Homo sapiens: one gene and its partners. The protein of the gene in region 3 purifies or fractionates together with the protein of the main gene of each other region. This does not show direct contact. Each region holds a gene or a part of one and is shown on either strand. Other genes may lie near its edges.

Region 1 (7,029 bases), on a different chromosome or scaffold from region 3:
ACACTTTGAATAGCAAGGAGTTAGAAGACTTACGAAGGAAGAAAGTTCTGAGATGAGAGTTATCTGAATGAACTAGGCCTCCAAGACTTGACTTTCTGACATTTTAAAAGTCCAAAATGTTAATCTTTTAGTATCCTGTGTCAATTAATATCTGATCTATATAAATAACAACCCTTCATAATGGTCCATGAAGAAGAAATAGATGGTTCCTTTAGCCATTAGGCATTGGTTATTGAATATTCACTATGTGATCAATACTGGGCATTACACAGGGGCATCTGCCAAGTTTCCATATATTTAGAGTGCTTAAAATCTAGGTGGCAAGAAGACTAATGGAAAACAATAACTAGTGTACCACCTAAAACAGCAGATGATTAAGATTTTAATTGCTACAAACGAGTGATTCCCAAGAGGGTAGCATATCAGCATCTGGGTGGAAGGCTAAACACACTGTCTCCCAACTCCTCCTATAAGATACTTACTCCACCCTTACTCTTACTGTCAATCACTGACAAGGGAAACTACACTGAATTCCAGGAATGGCATATTCTTCAGAAGGATGAGGTGGGAAAAATGACAAAAACCACTGTTTTTAAATTGCATACAGAAGGGCAATGGAGACCTGGGGCCTGAAAGAGTAAGTAGAAGTGGTGGGCATTCCAGGTGGGAGTTGCTTCCTGTGGTAAAAGTACTGAGGTGGAGATGAGTCTAGGGTATTTATGGGACAGGAAGAAGACCTGTCTAATTAAAGTAAACTAGAGTGTCCCACTCACCATCACCCTATTTTTAGTGGAGGAAGCATGGAAACTATCTCCTAAAAACCTGATGACCACCTGTTAAAAACACTGAAGAGATATTTCTTTACAGAAAGGCTAAACTAGTTTACCTCTCAGATCCTTTCCAATTTTTCCTCAAGTGCAGAACAAAATTCTGATTCTTCTCCAACCCATAATTCTAAATTGAATCACTTGTCTTGCCTGCTGTTGACCATGGCAGACAAGTGAAGAGAATGTGGATGTGTAAAACTCCCTATAAATTAAAAAAAAAAAAACCTAAATCACTGCATTAGGTTAAGCATTCCATTGCTGCTTAGCATCCCCAGTTCTCTAAGACTGTTCTCATAGGGCTATTTTCAACTCTGTCATCAATCATCTTTGTTACTCTTCCCTGAACCCTTTCCAAATTATCCTCATCCTTCTTATATAGGCAAGTGATGAATTACACTTCAGGTTTTCCCTGAGCACTCCATCTAAAGGAAGTCTCAGTTACACAACATTCTCTGCCAAAGCCCACCTCGACAAAGCACTTAATGTACTTCCAACTAGGTTTTTTCATTTGTTGCTTATGAAATATTTAAAATATACATTTAGAAGTTCATATTGTTAAGAAGTTAATATAACAGTAGCCCATATACCAAATATTACTTCCTTAATTTATGGTCAATGTGGACATCTAACTCTCTAATAAAAAAAATTCATAGTCTAAGATTGTGGCATATGGTTTTACTTGCTAATAATTTTCCCTTCCTTGTTTGTCTTTGCCATGATTCACTGTGGCCTAAGTATATTACTGAGGTATACCATACATACCAACGCCCAGATTTAACAAACATTAATATTTTTGCCTTGTTTTGCAATTATATACTTATTTATTTATTCATATATGTGTGGCCTGTTTTCCATTAGATTCTGTCTTATCTGGACAGAGCCATGTCTGATTATTAACCTCTTTTATACCCATTACTTAGCATAGAGCCTGGCATATAAGGTTCAATGAATAATGCATGAATGACTTTTGTCCTAGTATTAAATAAGGGCCATCACAATGGATGACTTATTAAACAAAAGACAATGATTCCATCTTTATTAAAAGTCCAAAGAGGGGAAAAAGGAAATGAGTCTTTATTAAAGAATGGGGTTTACATTTAAATGCATGCTATAGCTGGATATCGGACATTAGGATGAGTTAGTTGAGCAAGGTACAGAACTTCCCTTCCCTAGGGGCTCCTTTCCCTTGTTCCCTGAATAGCACATATATCTGCCTAGATAACAGTGATACAGAAGATGAGCTCTTCTAGCTCGTGTAGCTTAGAGATGCCAACTCAATGGCTTAAAGAAGGAGAGAACAAAGGAGGAGAAGGAGAAAGAGAAGAGAGGAAAAAATGGAGGGAGGAAGGGGTGGGGGCCTATACGGAGGGTATCCAATACCACTATAAGACCAGAAGAAATCATTCATTTTTTCTAGATTATGCCAATGGCAATAAAGATTATGTCCTGAAAACCTTAGAGTATGAAGTCCATTTGGATAAAATGAAGTGAAGCCTAAGGCAAAAACTTAAGAAAGATCATATCCAACTGTCAGAGAAATCTGACAGTTTTCTCTACCTCCTTCAGCCTGTACTCCCTGCCACCCAATATCTTCATGCAAAATCCTAAAAGTCTGGGTCCCTCCTGCCATGGTTCTCTACATGCTCTCAAATACCAAATATACACTCGTGTCTACTCCCCATCAAAACTTACTGGGTCTAAGTTCTATTACTTTGAGCTCTTATTCTTCTAGCAGGTCACTGAGAGATACTATGCTTATGATATAAATGGCTGTCTATTACTGAAAATATCACTTCCTTAATTTACAGTCAATGTGAACTTCCAACTCCCTAATAAAAAATTTCATAGTCTAAGATTGTGGCATATTGTTTTATTTGTTAATAATTCTCCCTTCCCTCTCTGTCCTTGCCACAGTTCACCACGGGCTAAGCATATGACTTAGGTATACCACTTGATATAACACAAATCATTTCTAATCACTGTCATAAGGAAATGTTTTTCTTGCTCCAAAGATATCTTACTCCACAGATAAAATATTACACGAGCACCTTTCCACTATGCAGCTAGCATATGTCAGCTTGGGGAAGCAGTCTTACACTCACTGCCCATCACTTTGCACAGCAAACTCACAGACACAGGGGCCACAGTTTGGTTGAATCCATAGTTTCCACTGTTTCTTTTTGTATTTCCTCAAGATCAGAGGGTATTACGTCTTCTCCATGAAGTGGGTAGCATGTGGATTGGCTTCTTTCTAAGTACAACTCCTTTTCTTCATGAAGCCATCACCTTATCTGTACCTGAGCCCAGTACCCTGTCAGTTCTGTCCCGAGCAACTTTTCCACTCTCATGAATAATGGTTAACCAAAAAAAAAAAAACAAAAAAAAACTCTTCCTATAGCACAAGTTTTCAGTGACAAATGAACAAAAGCATCACCGAGCACTCATTTCTGAACAAATGCCAAAAGCTGATTCATTCTCTGCATGACATCGGTGGTTTCATCCAACCATAAAGTGAAATATCTGCTAGCGTGCACTTGATAGTAATCGCTCTTCCACACTCCACTCCACTGATATTATGCCACAGCCAACCATGTTATTTGACAAAGGAGTTTTGTCAATAACTTCTGGTTTCTCTCTAAGGATAATGTTTGTCTTTAACTTTCCAGCTGATTTTCCAAGTGTCTCTTCAATAATATGACTCATACTTATTTTGCTACAAGGATCCTTTAATGATGCTAATAGAATTATAATCTCTTACCTACCTTTAGCCATATAATACATTAATTTTATAAAGGAAAGCATTATTGTGTGCCTGTCCTAGAAAACTTCAATAGTATAACAGAGAAGCCACTGTGCTTTGTTCGAAAATGACACAAAAACATCCATGGCTTCATGCCACTATTGGACAAAGTTTCATAACAGGCAACGATTACGGATTCATTTGGTCCTAATGGGGATAGCAAGTCCAATAAAAAATAGTTTTGAGATAGTCATTGTCATATTTCCATTTGCACTTTTCAATTTCAGCTACTGTTCTGAAATTGTCACTCTCAGAGATTCCCTTGTCTCTATACATACATATTCCCATTTTATATGCAGTGGGATTCAGTTCTCTAAGTATGTTTATGGTATTCTGAAATGTAGCATTTACAGTACTATTTTCATCACTATTTTTACACTTCAATGAACTACTTTTGAACCACTTATCTAGTTTTGTGAAATGGGAATACAATTTAAGAACAGCAAAAACAAAAAATATTCTTTTAACAAATAAAAAATAAGTAAATGATATAAAAATTATATTAACAAACATGAAGTGGACCATTAACAAAATGTAAGCTATACGCACTCACCAGTGCAGTCTTTGCAGCACAAATACAATCTTAAATATTATAATAAGTTTTAAGAACATAAGGGGATGTCTGCTGAAATCATAATTAAATGGCCTATCTCAAGGCCCTACAGGCTTTGCAACACCCACACCACCCTTCTGGTCTCATTTCTGACTTCCCCCTTGTCATTCCACCCCATCATGCTGATCTTGCAAATCTTTGAACATATCCAAACACATTCTTTTCTCAGGGCCTTTGCACTGGCCATCCTGCAACTCTATCCCTCAGGTATTTGTATTAAGCAACTTCTCTTACCTTCCGTTAACTCTTTGCTTAAGGTCTCTTTCTCCATGAAGCCTACTCAACCACACTTACCCTGTCCTACTTTCTCTTTCTTCCAAAGCACTCATCTCCTTCTAGCATCATATATAATTTAGTTATTTGGTTTATTATCTGTCTCCCACCTCCCACCTGCCTGCCCCCAACAGAATGAAAACTCTACAAGGTCAGAGATCTTTGTTTTATTCATTGATATATTCCCAGCACCTAGATCAGATACTAACCCGCAGATGGAGCTCAATACATATTACTTGAATGAACAAATAAATGAATGGATGAATGAATTAAATTTTTTCATTGCTTTTCCCTTCTAACCACCAAACTGCCTATGGATCTTACTTTGAGAATTAAAAAGAAAATGATAAGCCATCAGAGGTTTTTAAGCAAAAGAATTATATCAATAGAATGGTATTAAAATAGACAAGGTCAGGAGATGATTTAAAGTTTGGAGAGGCTAGATCCAAAGAGTTTAGTTAAAAAGTCAACCAATGAAAGAGATAAGGAAGGGCATAAATTTCCAATTACCAGGACTTCTTAAGTGGTTTATTTCAAACCTACAATTCACATATCCATAGATACATTATCAATGTTTATCTATACATACATTGCATACACACACACACACATATACGTTGAACAAGACTAGAAGAAGCTAAGGACATTTCTCATCATATGGATATAATACATATACAAGCTTATCACTTGAGTCATAGTTAGAACAGCCATAAATCCTAGTTTTCCTGGCACAGTCTCAGTTTATACTTGTTGATCTAATGCCCCTTCCAGTTAGTACCATATTTTACTCTCAAAAGTGTCCTTGTCTGGATTTTTTTAAATTACATAGTCATCCTACTTATAAAAAAGATACATAGGCCGGTCACGGTGGCTCACACCTGTAATCCCAACACTTTGGGAGGCCGAGGAGGGTGGATCATTTGTCAGGAGTTCAAGACCAGCCTGGCCAACATGGTGAAATCCTGTCTCTACTAAAAACACAAAAATTTGCTGATGGTAGTGGTGCGTGCCTGTAATCCCAGCTACTTGGGAGACGGAGGCATGAGAATCGCTTAAACCCAGGAGGCGGAGGATGCGGTGAGCCAAGATTGCACCACTGCACTCCAGTCTGGGCAACGGAGTGAGACCCTGTCTCAAAAAATAAATAAATAAATAAATTTCTTCTTATTTAGACATGCTGACCAAGCTTTTGAGGACTTCAGTGGAGTGAGTTTGGGAAAGGTGACAGCCATAATTAATTATAACATCCACTGGCCAACATAGTAAGTGAGCTGTGTTACAAACACACAATTCTTTGGTAAAGGAGCATAGCAACTACTGCAGAAGCAAATGCCACAAACTTCATATATCTAAGTTGGGTAAAGAATCCAAACCCTTGCCAGGTCACCTGCACAATCTCAAACCCCCAAGAGAATTTTCATGTGGTGAACAGACACAACAGTTCTCCCTCTCTGCGACCCCTCTGTATGAAAAGCTGAGACCCAAACCAAACACTGGAGACACAAGGGAGTACAGAAAACAAAAGCCCTCCTATTATCCTCATGGCCCTGAGAGCTTGGAAACTAAGAGAATGTGGAATCAAGTCTTCACAACAACACTTGTGTTCTGGAATCTCAGTAAATATCCAAGATCTGGACCAGACACTAGATCTTGAAACTTGCATTCCTACCTCTAAGAGCCATGGTAACCACTAGGTCTGCAAACAGGTTTTGTAGAAACTGCTCTCCCAAATCAAAGGATTTGTCCCAATTAGTGTCAGCTCTAGATATATGGACAGGTGTTAATTCATATTGTGCTTGAAGACAATAATAATATGGGCTTACAGCCACGGCAGATGCTTAGTAACTTAAGAATAAAACTATTTTATTCACTATGTGTGTAAATAGATGACAAGCAATTATCTCATTCTCCTATCTTCCTTCCTCCTATTTCATTTTTTCTTATATATTTTTCAGGTTTAAATTTTTCTGATTTTCTAGCTTTGCATTTAATAAATAAAAGACTGAAATAAGGCAAGACTCAAAATCTGGTGTCGGAAGAGGGGTGATGAAAAAAATTCAGGATTCCTTAATATCTAGGGTGACCAGATAATTATCACCCAAACCAGGACACTTTTACATGTGAAAGGGGGTGCTTTTGATAATTAAGATAAACCAACAGGAGTAAACTGGCACTGTCACAAGCAAAGCAGGGCATCTCGTCACCTTTCTAATCTCTCATTCATATCCTGATACAAAAGGCATCCTGTGTGTAATGAAGCAACCTCTGCCTCTGTTAAATCAATCAAACTTCAAACATAGTCCTCCCTCTTTCAGGCCAGGCCTGGCTTTTGATAACAGAGCTGGAAAGGTTTTCACCCAATGCTGCCATTCCCTATCCAACACACCAAGCAAAACTGGTTCCAGTTTTTCCCAAGAAAGTAGTCAGCAATGCACAAGAATGTGGATCCAGGCCAGGCCCACAGCAAGCCCCAGGCGAGAAGCCTCTGGTTTCTCTTAAAGGAACACTTCACAACA
Region 2 (7,029 bases), on a different chromosome or scaffold from region 3:
TCCTTCTCATAACATCCTATCATGGGGTGTATAATAGCCACATGATGTCATGGTTGATATTAACCTTCATCACTTGGTTAGTGTTTGCTAGGCTTCTCCACTGTGAAGTTAGTGTTTTTCCCTTTGGAAGTAAGTCAGTAAATCTAACTACCCTCAGATGAGAGAGAGCAGGAATTAACTTCCTCCTCCAGGGGATACTAAAATATACATAACATAAAATTTACATTTTAACCATTTTTAAGTGTACAGTTCATATTGTTTTATAACCATCACCACCACCCATCTCTAGAACTGTTTCATTGTCTCCACTGAAACCCTGCACTCATAAAACACTAAGTGTAAAGGGAATTCTTACATTAAATTGTTTGGCATAGCATCTGGCAATGCAGAAGGCACACAATAAGTGTGAACTATTCATAAGTCGTTTTCAGTGAGACACTTTTAGAAAGATTTTTTTCCTTCCTTTGTAGGTAATTAATCAACCTCCAAAAGAGATTCAGTAAAAATAAAAGTGATCATTTAACCTTTCCCTCTTGTAATGGTCTTTTATAAAAATTCAGTTGGGGGGCCAGGCACGGTGGCTCATTCCTGTAATCCCAGCTCTTTGGGAGGCCAAGGCAGGGGGATCACCTGAGGTCAGGAGTTTGAGACCAGCCTGGCCAACATGGTGAAACCCCATCACTACTAAAAATGGTGGCGGGCACCTGTAATCCCAGCTACTCTGGAGGCTGAGGCTGGAGAATCACTTGAACCTGGGAGGCAGAGGCTGCAGTGAGCCAAGATCCCGCCACTGCACTCCAGCCTGGGCATCAGAGTGAGACTCTGTCTAAAACAACAAAAAAAAAAACAAACAAAAAAATTCAGTTGGGAAGGGGAATAAAAATTACTGGCTAAAATGGGATTTTAGGTCAGGCATAGTGGCTCATGCCTGTAATCCCAGCACATTGGGAAGCTGAGGCCAGAGGATTGCTTGAGCCCAGGAGTTCAAGACCAGCCTGGACAACATAGCAAAATCACGTCTCTACAAAGAAAATGTAAAAATTAGCTGGGCATGGTGGCACGAGTGTGTAGTCCCAGCTACTTGGGAGGCTGAGGTAGGAGGATAGCATGAGCCTGGGAGGTCAAAGCTGCAGTGAGCCACGATCATGCCACTGTACTCCAGCCTGGGCAATAGAATGGGACCCCCATCTCAAAAACAAAATAAAATGGGATTTTAGCTTATGTTTGGAAAGGGAAGTAAACGTTTTTGGCTAAAATGGTATTTTAATTATTCTTTTTTTTTCTGAGACAGAGTCTTGCCCTGTCACACAGGCTGGAGTGCAATGGTGTGATCTCGGCTCAATGCAACCTCCATCTCCTGGCTTCAATCTATTCTCCTGCCTCAGCCTCCCCAGCCGCTGGGATTACAGGTGCCTGCCATCACGCTCAGCTAATTTTTGTATTTTTATTAGAGACAGGGTTTCACCATGTTGGCCAGGCTGGTCTTGAACTCCTGACCTCGTGATCCGCCCGCCCAAAATGCTGGGATTACAGGCGTGAGCCACTGCAGCCGGCCTCTTATTCTTTATGATATGTTTATCACCATGTTTTATAAATAATTGGTTATAATTCCATATTCTTATGTCCGTAAACCTTTCTGAATTTTTCTAACATGTAAATGACTTTTTTCTAGAAGTTAGGAAGTCATACAGAATAATGTATTCTGGTTGGGTGCAGTAGCTCATGCCTATAATCCCAACACTTTGGGAGGCCAGGATCGCTTGTGGCCAGGAATTTGAGACTAGCCTGGGTAACATAGTGAGACTCTGATTCTACAAAAAAATAAAAAATTAGCTGGTGTACTGGCACGCACTTGTAATCTTAGCTACTCAGGAGGCTGAGGCAAGAGGATTGCTTGAACCCAGAAGTTGAAGGCTGCAGTGAGCTACAGCTGTGCCAGCGCACTCCAGCATGGACAACAGAGAGAGACCCTGTCTCATAAATAAATAAATAACATATTGTATATGTTATAGGGTAGAACTGTTACCATTAAGTTGAAGAATGTGAATTTTGAAGTAAAAACTCGTGCATCTACAGTTTCATCTGTTGTTTCTACTGCAGAAGAAATATTTGCCATTGCTAAGGAATTGCTAAAAACAGAAATTGATGCTGATTTTCCACATCCCTTGAGATTAAGGCTTATGGGTATGACTTTTTCATTTTTTTGTTTTTCCTTAAATCTGCTAGATTTTCCCAAATAATCAACTTTGGGAATACAGGGGGCCCCCAACTTAACAATGGTTCAACTTAATGATTTTTCAACTTTGCGACAGTGGGAAAGCTGTATGCTTTCAGTACACTCTTGACTTACAAGGTGGTTACATCCCGATAAACCCATCATAAATTGAAAGTATTGTAAATTGACTTATTATGTTTTCAATTTACAGCGGGTTTATCTGGATACAATCCTACTGTAACTCAATGAGCACCTGTATTCTCGCCTTCATTTTATTTCTTAAACCTGTTTACGAAGTTCTTCCTTTGCTGCTGCCATTTGTCTTAGTTATTAGACCCTGATGTGTGAAGCCATGATCATTAGTTTAATTCCAGTAAGGGTCAATTAAAGTTGTTATTTTCCTTATAACTTAATGAAATTCTTGTGGCCAGGTGTGTTTCAAAATTCAAAACTTTTCAGATTTTAGAAAGCAAATTCAGTGCATGTAGAGTATATTACGTTGTAATACTTCTTTGTGGATCTGGGGCAACACCCCCTGTTCAAACACATTAATATTTCTGTAGCAAAACAAAATATTCAGAGACTGTAAAGACTGATGACATTAATTTAGTCATCAGGTATCACTTGTTGCTTACAATTTTCAGAACTTTTTGGATTTTGGAATTACAGATAAAGGATTGTGACATTGTGAAATCACATCTCCAGCCACTACATGGTAAAAAGTAACAAGCCATGTTTCCAAAGTGTACTGGTTGAAAGTATATATGTGGATCACCACTCCAAATGCACATTTTACTAGTAAGGAGTGGGTCACTAGCCATAATTTTATTTATGAAAGATATAGCACACACTGAAATCAACTGAATAAAGTGTTAATTGAAAGAGCCAGGCTGGGCGCGGTGGCTCACGCCTGTAATCTCAACACTTTGGGAGGCCAAGGCAGGTGGATTGCCTGAGGTCAGGAGTTCAAGACCAGCCTGGCCAACATAGTGAAACTGCATCTCTACAAAAACTACAAAAAATTAGCTGGACATGGTGGCGGGCACCTGTAATCCCAGCTACTTGAGAGGCTGAGGCAGGAGAATCGCTTGAACCCGGGAAGTTGCAGTGAGCTGAGATCACGCTGTTGCACTCCAGCCTGGGCAACAAGAGTGAAACTCCACCTCAGAAAAAAAAAAAAAAAAAAAAAAAAAGCCCAAGAGCAGATATCTATAGAAGCTTAATTCATAATTGCCAAAACTTTGAAGCAAGCACGATGTCCTTCGGTACGTGAATGGATAAATAAACTGTGGTACATACAGACAGTGGAATAATATTCAGCACAGAAAATAAATGAATTATCAATTCATGAAAAGACACGAATGAAACTTAACTGCATAATGTTAAGTAAAAGAAGCCAGTCTGAAAAAGCTAAATACTGTGTGATTCCAACCATATGAGATTCTGGAAAAGGCAAATATGAGTACCATAAAAAATAATTGATTGTCAGGAGTTAAGAGGGGCAGGAGGTATAAATAGGCAAAACACAGGAATTTTAGGGCAATGAAATGATTCCGTATGATTCTATAATGACACGTCATTATAAATTTGTCCAGCGCCCAGGATGTATTCCAAGGGTGAACCCTATGTAAGCTATGGACTTTGAGTGACAATGTTGTGGCAGTGTAGGTTTATAGATTGTAACAAATGTACCACTCTAGTGCCACATGTTGATAGTTGGGGTGGTGGAGGGGTGTGCATGTGTAGGGAAAGGGGATCTTTGGGAACTCATTGTACCTTCTGCTCAATTTTGCTGTGAACCTAAAATTCCTCTAAAAAATAAAGTCTATTAGAAAAAAAAGAGCTAAAGAGTCTGTATAGTTGACTCCAGTTAGTTACTGGTATTAATTTAATGGTATTATGTGTCACATATGAATTAAAATCCTACATCATTATACTAACTCCAAATAGTTAATATTTAATGATATTCTTTTATAAAGGAAGGTAAATCTGTACTTATAATACCAGCTTTGAAATGTTACTTATAGTTTCTCTCTAGCCAACCTTTTGTATATGTCATAGCACTAGACAAAATGTTTTTATGCATTGTGAGTGAATTGGCTTTGTTCAATTTGAAATTGATTGTGATTGGTTTAATTTAGGTGTTCGGATATCTAGTTTTCCCAATGAAGAGGACAGGAAACACCAACAAAGGAGCATTATTGGCTTTTTACAGGCTGGAAACCAAGCCCTGTCAGCCACTGAGTGTACATTAGAGAAAACTGACAAAGATAAGTTTGTAAAACCTCTAGAAATGTCTCATAAGAAGAGTTTCTTTGATAAAAAACGATCAGAAAGGAAATGGAGTCACCAAGATACATTTAAATGTGAAGCCGTGAATAAACAAAGTTTCCAGACATCACAACCATTCCAAGTTTTAAAGAAGAAGATGAATGAGAATTTGGAAATATCAGAGAATTCAGATGACTGTCAGATACTTACCTGTCCTGTTTGCTTTAGGGCTCAAGGGTGCATCAGTCTGGAAGCCTTGAATAAACATGTAGATGAATGTCTTGATGGACCTTCAATCAGTGAAAACTTTAAAATGTTCTCGTGTTCACATGTTTCTGCTACCAAAGTTAACAAGAAAGAAAATGTTCCTGCTTCTTCACTTTGTGAGAAGCAAGATTATGAAGCCCATCCAAAAATTAAAGAAATATCTTCAGTAGATTGTATAGCTTTAGTAGATACTATAGATAACTCATCTAAAGCAGAAAGCATAGATGCTTTAAGTAATAAGCATAGCAAGGAAGAATGTTCTAGTCTCCCAAGCAAGTCTTTTAATATTGAACACTGTCATCAGAATTCTTCTTCTACTGTTTCATTGGAAAACGAAGATGTTGGATCATTTAGACAAGAATACCGCCAGCCTTACTTATGTGAAGTGAAAACAGGCCAAGCTCTAGTTTGTCCTGTTTGTAACGTAGAACAAAAGACTTCAGATCTAACCCTGTTCAATGTGCATGTGGATGTTTGCTTAAATAAAAGTTTTATCCAAGAATTAAGAAAGGATAAATTTAACCCAGTTAATCAACCCAAAGAAAGCTCCAGAAGTACTGGTAAGTGTGTAATTGTTTTAAACTGCATGATTTTCTAGGAATATGTATTATTAAAATTAATGAGATTGTTGTTAAATCTGAAACATATACTATTAAATGGGTAGTTTGTGTATGCCGCCATTTAGGGAAATGTTGGTTACATTGCCATAGGTTAGAATTAACTCAAGCCTGTAGATTGTGAATTTGGGGAAAACTTTGGTTTGATCTTGATTTAGCACAGAATGAACTCAAAGGTTTAAGGAGCTGAGTGATCTAATCAAACAAATTCCTTCAGAGAACATCTGTGAAGGCACAGTGGTAAATTAACTATAACTGCATAACTAGAAAGCCTCTTTAACTTATTTTTTGGTAGTGCTGACTCTACCCAAATTTCACCAATAAAATTAAGTGTAATGCTAATAAAATTAGTAAATTACAAAGAAATTATAGTTTTTGGTGTGTTTACATATGAACTATATAGTACTAAGGAAGTTTAATCAATAAGTTTTAACTTTTTAAATTTGTATACAACTTTTTAATTATTTCATATTATTCATTATGGAATTTCTTGACTTTCTTTCCTCTAAAGGTAGCTCAAGTGGAGTACAGAAGGCTGTAACAAGAACAAAAAGGTATGGCTAATTTGAGCTTTAATAAAGCTGGCTACAATATGAAAATTCAATTATTTTATAAATTATTAAGTAATCAATATTAAAAATGAATTATTTTCTAGAATCTCTTCCTGCATTTTAATTGTGTGTTCCTTTTCATTCTAGGCCAGGATTGATGACAAAGTACTCAACATCAAAGAAAATAAAACCAAACAATCCCAAACATACCCTTGATATATTTTTTAAGTAAACATTGAACATTTTATCATTAATTTTTAATTGAAACTAGTTATTTTATAATCAATGAATTTGTTCTTTCTGATTTTAAGTTTGCAGATTTATTTAGTGAAGGCAAGTGCAATAATCCTTCCTCAGATGATGTTTGCTTTTCTAAGATACATATACTGATTCTGTGTATCTTTTTTATAACCATGAGAATTTTACTTCCATTATACATCAATTGGAAATCAATCCTGTTAAGAGATAATTCTTAAAAGGGAAATTAGGAATGGGATAAGAAGGTGATTTTTTTATTATTTTTATACTGAATATAAAAACATTTGTAAGGGCTCTCAAAGATTCACACATGCCTATATTATCATAAGAATTTTTCAGCACTTAACTACTTTGTTGGCATTGATCCTAGTGTCTTTAAATACTTCATGAGCATTCATAATTAAAATTTATCTTAAGTTCTATGAAGAGTATTAATGTAACTAGCATAAGTGGTTTTCTTCAGGAAAATAAATATCACAGTATTATCTGTGTTAAAATGGTTTTTGCCTAAAATATAATTTTTAATTTGGCTTTTCTTATTTAAAATTCCATTATCTTATGAATAAGCACTTGAATCAGTTTTTAAAATATTTAGTCTAAGATGATTCAAAGTAGTTTTATTTTAATACAGGACTTTTAAATGGCAGTATTTCATTTCTTGTCAATTATGTTGGTACTTTCCACAAATCTATAAAGAAGGATAAATTGTACCATCATTTTATTATAATCCTCAAGAGAAAATGTGTAATTCAAAAGATTAATGTGTATTAAAACACATTATGTATCTTAGTTACATTTCTATCAGTACTTTTATTAATATTTGTGAAAGAAGACAGCTTAATAGTAGTTA
Region 3 (7,029 bases):
AGAAAAATGGTTGTTCCTTTTTCATAATCTTTCCAGAGTCATCTTAGTGGGATTTGGGGAAGCAACAGGGCTGTGTGGGGTAACCTGCCACCTTTAAGTGGAAATCAGGTAACAAAGTTTCATTCACTTTTTTTTTCTCATTTCTGTTTTCCCCAGTCTATGATTCAATTCATTTTTTATTGGCTGGATATAATCTGGATTTATATTATAATGAATTTTAGAATGAGACTCTTGTTTCAACCATAAGGATGTATGATAGGAAACTATTATAAGAAACCAGAACAAGAAAATTATTTAATAGATGTATTCTGATTTATTCTCTTATGTTTTTAAATTAAGATATTTTGGACCAAGAGTTTTCATTTATTTATCCATTCATCAAATACATGTTAAGTGCTTTCTTTATGACAGACCTAATAGTAGGCTTAAAGGATAGTATAATAGTGAACAAAACAGAGATAAGCGAGGCACTTGTCCTCTTAAAATATATTCAGGTAGGAGATACGAATCATAAGTAAACAATAGCTAAGCAAGATAATTAAATATGTCTCCAATTTTGCAGAAATGGAGCAAGAGCCACAAAATGGAGAACCTGCTGAAATTAAGATCATCAGAGAAGCATATAAGAAGGCCTTTTTATTTGTTAACAAAGGTCTGAATACAGATGAATTAGGTCAGAAGGAAGAAGCAAAGAACTACTATAAGCAAGGAATAGGACACCTGCTCAGAGGGATCAGCATTTCATCAAAAGAGTCTGAACACACAGGTCCTGGGTGGGAATCTGCTAGACAGATGCAACAGAAAATGAAAGAAACTCTACAGAATGTACGCACCAGGCTGGAAATTCTAGAGAAGGGTCTTGCCACTTCTCTGCAGAATGATCTTCAGGAGGTGCCCAAGTTATATCCAGAATTTCCACCTAAAGACATGTGTGAAAAATTACCAGAGCCTCAGTCTTTTAGTTCAGCTCCTCAGCATGCTGAAGTAAATGGAAACACCTCAACTCCAAGTGCAGGGGCAGTTGCTGCACCTGCTTCTCTGTCTTTACCATCACAAAGTTGTCCAGCAGAAGCTCCTCCTGCTTATACTCCTCAAGCTGCTGAAGGTCACTACACTGTATCCTATGGAACAGATTCTGGGGAGTTTTCATCAGTTGGAGAGGAGTTTTATAGGAATCATTCTCAGCCACCGCCTCTTGAGACCTTAGGGCTGGATGCAGATGAATTGATTTTGATACCAAATGGAGTACAGATTTTTTTTGTAAATCCTGCAGGGGAGGTTAGTGCACCTTCGTATCCTGGGTACCTTCGAATTGTGAGGTTTTTGGATAATTCTCTCGATACGGTTCTAAACCGTCCTCCCGGGTTTCTTCAGGTAAGCGAAAGAAAAATGAAAGCATAATTTGAAATACGTGTAGACTACATCATTTTTATTTGTTAATGTTTATGTGTCCAGTATAAGTGCAAAAAGATAACGACAAATTCTACTTTGTTTTTAAATATATTCCATGAAATTATGAGCCTTGAACATGTTTGTGTTTGTCTTTTTCTTTTTTTAAAAAAGATATATTAATAGTTTTATTTTGGTATTAAGTTTGTGATGATAAAACTTGAGAAGAGTGGTCATCCTTACATTTTTAATTCTTTATCTGAAGAAGAAATCTAATAAGTTTAATTTCGAAAGGGATTTATGTAATTCCTGTGGATGTATAGCTGTAAATATTCACAAATGTTGTCAAGACTCAGCTGAGGGTCTGAACTGGGAGAGACCGAGCCCATGGTCCAGAACAGTTGTTCTCAACCCAGGGTAGTTTTGCCTCCCCAGAGAACATTTGACAATGTCTGGAGGCATTTTTGGTTGTCATACTGGAAGTTGATTGCTACTGGCATAGTGGATAGAGGCCACGGATGCTGCCACACATTTTCACAGGACAGCCCTCATGAACAAAAAAAAATTATCCTGCCCAAAATCTCAACTATGCCAAGGTTGAGAGACCTTGGTTTAGAAGTCGAGACTGTGGTGATAATTTAAGATGTAATTCCAACAGTCCAAGCAGAGAAATTTACCAGAATGCACTTGGTCTAAGAGTAAAGAGTGCTACATAAAGATTGATGTCAGGGCATTGCTGTGGATTTAGTGAGGTACTCTGAAGAGAGTGGTCCAGTGACAGTCTCGTTTTAAAAGATTGGATGTAGGTATAGGAAGATGAGTTCTTGAAATGAGGACTCAGTATACGTTGAATATAACAAAGGAGTTTGCATTGAAGAAAGATCACTATTTAAGCAAAACAGATGTTTTGTCCACAGTCCAAATAATGTGGTTTAGTAATAGCACAGCTTATCTCTATTCATTTTCTCTTTTGGTATTCTCTCCTGTTGATTCTTATGTAGTTTTTATATGAAGTCAACTTGAAAGTTGTTTAAAGACAATTCGAGGCTTGCTAGGGATGTGTGAGGGAGATACTTTGAGGGCATTATTGAAAGGAAATATTTGATACTGGACAGAAAGAATATTGTGAATCCTGTAGATTATTTTAAGGAAGGAGCCTTAAGGTTACAAAGAGTAGGCTTATTGATTGGGGTTTGTAGTGGCGGGTGATAAAAGCTATAACAGTTTCTACTAATAGTGTTGCACTGTAATGATGGAATAAAAAATCTTTGGGTCCTTAGCAACTGGAGATGGGGTAGTGAATGGCAGAAATACTGTACCGTGGTTACATTCACTCATCCATTGAAATGACTTGTACTTTAATACAAATTTGTCCTTAGTGCATTTAATTTTGTTTTTAATCTTTCTCATGTGTATTTTTTGTCCTAAACGAAAAGTAAAATTGCACCCAAAATTTAATTTGAGTCTCTTTAAGAGGTTCTCATTTGCTTGTATTCAGGTATTTGTAGCAGAGTGTCCTTAAAAGGAGTTAACATATGTGTTTACTGAATGTTTTTATCCAAAAAAAAAAAAAAAATACAATAATAATCCAACTAAATACTAGAAGTTAGATATTTCCTGTGCTAAAAATCACTGTTAAAATCACTATTGGTCTAAATAGGAAATTAAGTTTTTTTGGTTTTAGGTAGATAGAATTCTGGAACTTCAAAAAAAGATTTTTCTTTTGGTTTTAGTTTTAATACCAAATACTTTTTAAACCTGTTAAATCTATAATTACAGAAATTGGACATGAGATTGCCCTCTGAAAATGAAACTGGGAAAAATCAGCCTATGGTGGATGACTCACTTATCTGTAATATCCTGTCCTAGGAAAGGTCTATAAAGTGTTGGTTTTTTTAAAGACAATTTGGTGATATTGCAGTTCAATTAAGGTGACCAGGATATAGATAATCTGAAAGAAACCATGGAATAGTTTAAAAAAAAGAAAAAAAAAAGAAAAACCTTTCCTAAGTTTTATTTTAGAATAACTTTTACAATTTTTTTGTCAACTCTATACCACTGCTATTACTTGCTTTATATTTTTACTAAATTGTCCCACTTGTCAGTTTTATCTTAATAATAACTGAAATTAAGGGAAATATGTATTTTTCTCATACATATTAAAATAAATAACTACTCAAATGTTAAAAGTTTGTGGGTAAGACTGTTTTGATGTTGAGCACAGTTATATTTTGGTTTCTCAAAGAATGTATTGCATTAGAAATAAATTAGGCAGCCAGGATGTGAGCTTATGTCTGTGTATGTACTGGCAAGCCGACCTCCGCAGATGACATTGCAGGAGAGCTTTTGTTATTTTGCTTTTAATTTCACAATAGATAGATAATCCATAAACATTAACTTAATCTATTCTGTTATGTCAGGTTCTCTTGGGTTTAGTACAAAAAATTATTCCATGTTGTGAGTGAGTGCTGAATTTCTTATTTATTCATTTATTTTTTCTTTGAGACAGAGTCTTGCTGTGTTGCCCAGGCTGGAGTGCAGTGGCACAATCTTGGCTCACTGCAACTTCCACCTCCCAGGTTCAGGTGATTCCCCTGCCTCAGCCTCCCAAGGAGCTGGAGCTAGGATTACAGGCATGCACTACCACCCCCAGCTAATTTTTGTAGTTTTAGTAGAGATGGGGGTTTCACCATGTTGTCCAGGCAGGTCTTGAACTCCTGACCTCAAATAATCCCCCCACCTCTCCTTGGCCTCCCAGAGTGTTGGGATTATAGGTGTGAGCCACTGTGCCCGGCCTGTGAGTGCTGGGTTTCTAATTAAAATACTTGTTCAGCTTCTCTGGTCCAGACTATATGTGTTAAAATCCAAGCTCCACTTTTTAGTTGTTGGTTCTGGGCGACTTAATTGACCTCTCTGTGCCTCAATTTTCTTGTACATAAAATGACAATAATAGTAACTGATTTCATAGGATTGTTAGGAGGATTAAATCAGTAAATACTATTATTTCAGTAAATATTTCAAGTAAATAATATCTGAAAATAGTTTATTTACCACAAAAGGAATATCTGATTTCAATAACGAAAACCTTAATTTACTTTGATTATTATTTATTTAAAGCTGGAGTCATTATTGGTTAACACTAGGCTAGTTAAGGCCATCAGCTTTAAGATTGTATAATTAGTGGAGCCATGGCACATTTAGCACAGTCCTTATTGCAGAAAGATCAGACTAGCAAATGATTAATTTTCTTGGGGATTTGTTGATGTTGATGTTTCTTAAAGCCTTTTAAAATATGTTTCCAACTTTGAAGTGTTTATTTTCTAGTATAACAATTTTATTAAAACATAAATGAAAATCTAGTTTCATTTATTTATATGTATATTTTTTTTCTTCTAATGAATCCTTTCAGGTTTGTGACTGGTTATATCCTCTAGTTCCTGATAGATCTCCGGTTCTGAAATGTACTGCGGGAGCCTACATGTTTCCTGATACAATGCTACAAGCAGCAGGATGCTTTGTGGGGGTCGTCCTGTCCTCTGAGTTACCAGAGGATGATAGAGAGCTCTTTGAGGATCTGTTAAGGCAAATGTCTGACCTTCGGCTCCAGGTAACTTGTGTGATCATCTTTAGGGTGAAAAAAATCTACTTTAACATAAGCACTTCAGCTTTTAGAGAAATTGTAATAACCTCTACTGTAATCAAGGTTAGGAGACTGACAGTTCACCATTTGTTTGTGTGTTCACAACTACATGCTTGGAATTTGCTGTAATAGTGGTTAAGATTGTGAGCTCTAGAGTCAAATTGCCTGTATATGAATTCAAACTCTTCCACTTAATGACCGTTTAGCTCAGCTGTTCCTGATCTTCTCTATACTTTAATTTACTTATAAAATGGGGATAATAACAGTGTCCACTTCATTGGGCTGTGGTGAAAATTAAAAATTAATACATTAAGCACTTATATCAGAACGAGTAGTTATGCTCTGTGAATGTTAGCTATTGTTTTCACCACTGTTTTATTGCTCAGCTGGAAAAGTGTACTAATGGGTCTAAATGGTGACATGAAGATAATTTTAGCTTTAGTAGATAGGTTATGTTGGACATTTTAAGGGGTATGGTTGGCATTCTGAGGAAGAAACAGGCTTTGGTTGAGATAATTATCTTTGTTCTTGTGGTAAATGAAGGCCAAATAAAAAAATAAAAAGAAAATATGATTTAAAATATGATCATCCTGGAACTTTCCTTATTTGGCATGTTTCCTCTGCCCACATGCGTACCTGTAGAAATAGAGTATTTCTGTTTAACAGGGAACTTGAATAGAGTATTATGGAGAGACTTTCTTTATATATTGTTGTAGCAAGAGGGAAAAAGTATTTTTGATTATGAATATTGACAGTCATCAGGGGTTGAATGAGGTGGGCATTATAATAGTATAATCTTTTATTCTCTCCTTCAATCAGCAGATACTTGGAATTCATTATTTAACCAGTTACTGTGTTAAGTGATGGGATGGGCAAAGTATGAGAACAGGAGACCACGAAGGTGTGGGGGATGTGTGTGTGTGTGTGTGTGTGTGTATGAAAATATAAAATCAGCCCCTGTTCACCCGAGAATGACCTACCTGGTGGTCAACAAACCAATACTTTAGCATAGCAGCAATTATTTAACAAAATACATGATCAGCATACAGAAGTGTGTAGCCTCATTGTACTTGTGAGGAGGAATTCACAAAGGCAGGAATATGGTCAAATGAAGGAGTTCATCTTCACTTCACTGTTTACTGAGTGAAATGATGCTCTTAAGTATTCACAGACCTAATGTGGAACTATTTCTCCCTTCACCCCTACGTTAACTGGACCTGTATTACTGGGCTTTAGGAAAGAAACTAAGCAGACTTTTAGGTTGTATGTTTATTTTCTGTCTTCAATTTAATTTTTTGGTATTTGTATGTTATTTTTAGCTTGCTTTACTGTCCCAGAACTTCAACTGTAAACATAAGCTAGTTACTAGCTATAATTTTGACTGGTTTTTACTCTTAAGCATTCATTCAGCAAAGTGTATATTGTGCAGAAAATTAAAAAATAAACCTTCCAATAATGCATAATGAAATGGACATGAGTTTTGTTAATTGCCTTTAAATTCACTTTCTCTTGTACATGTTAACTAAAATTTATTCATTAATTAAATTTAAATGTAGCTGCATCTGATTCAAAGATAACTTATACCAACAACTGCTATAAGTTGTCTTTTACACGTTGTCTTTTGAAACTTACTTAGGCATATGCTATGAACCAAAGAACTCAGAGGTTTGGGGTTTGGTGATGAAACAAAAGAGAATCGTAGAGAAAAAAGCAAAAGTAGTTGTTACTGATAGACTGCCAAACTGACATTCAAACAAGTATGTCATTTGAGCATGGTGTAATATAGCTGGCAGAAAGCCATCTAAGAAAAATTCTGATTAGAGTTAAGCTTAAACCTTTATTCTCTAGGCCAACTGGAACAGAGCAGAAGAAGAAAATGAATTCCAAATCCCTGGAAGAACTAGACCCTCCTCTGACCAACTAAAAGAAGCCTCTGGCACTGATGTGAAACAGTTGGACCAAGGCAATAAGGATGTACGTCATAAAGGAAAACGTGGAAA

What was found. Proteins that work in one complex are often made in the same cells at the same time.
Region 1: the proteins of SPART (region 3) and HECW2 purify together in Homo sapiens (affinity purification with mass spectrometry; 2 studies listed by BioGRID and IntAct, with this or other methods). This does not show direct contact.
Region 2: the proteins of SPART (region 3) and POLK purify together in Homo sapiens (affinity purification with mass spectrometry; 2 studies listed by BioGRID and IntAct, with this or other methods). This does not show direct contact.

The regions. Positions count from the first base shown.
Region 1 is NC_000002.12:196,583,551-196,590,579, forward strand, and holds part of HECW2 (E3 ubiquitin-protein ligase HECW2), read right to left. Parts: intron 1-7,029. UniProt on the Homo sapiens protein: E3 ubiquitin-protein ligase that mediates ubiquitination of TP73. Acts to stabilize TP73 and enhance activation of transcription by TP73. Involved in the regulation of mitotic metaphase/anaphase transition.
Region 2 is NC_000005.10:75,591,866-75,598,894, forward strand, and holds part of POLK (DNA polymerase kappa), read left to right. Parts: intron 1-2,012; coding exon 2,013-2,184; intron 2,185-4,356; coding exon 4,357-5,313; intron 5,314-5,881; coding exon 5,882-5,924; intron 5,925-6,068; coding exon 6,069-6,153; 3' UTR 6,154-7,029. UniProt on the Homo sapiens protein: DNA polymerase specifically involved in DNA repair. Plays an important role in translesion synthesis, where the normal high-fidelity DNA polymerases cannot proceed and DNA synthesis stalls.
Region 3 is NC_000013.11:36,329,366-36,336,394, reverse strand, and holds part of SPART (spartin), read left to right. Parts: intron 1-36; exon of another isoform or gene 37-108; intron 109-562; 5' UTR 563-564; coding exon 565-1,374; intron 1,375-4,798; coding exon 4,799-4,996; intron 4,997-6,877; coding exon 6,878-7,029. UniProt on the Homo sapiens protein: Lipophagy receptor that plays an important role in lipid droplet (LD) turnover in motor neurons.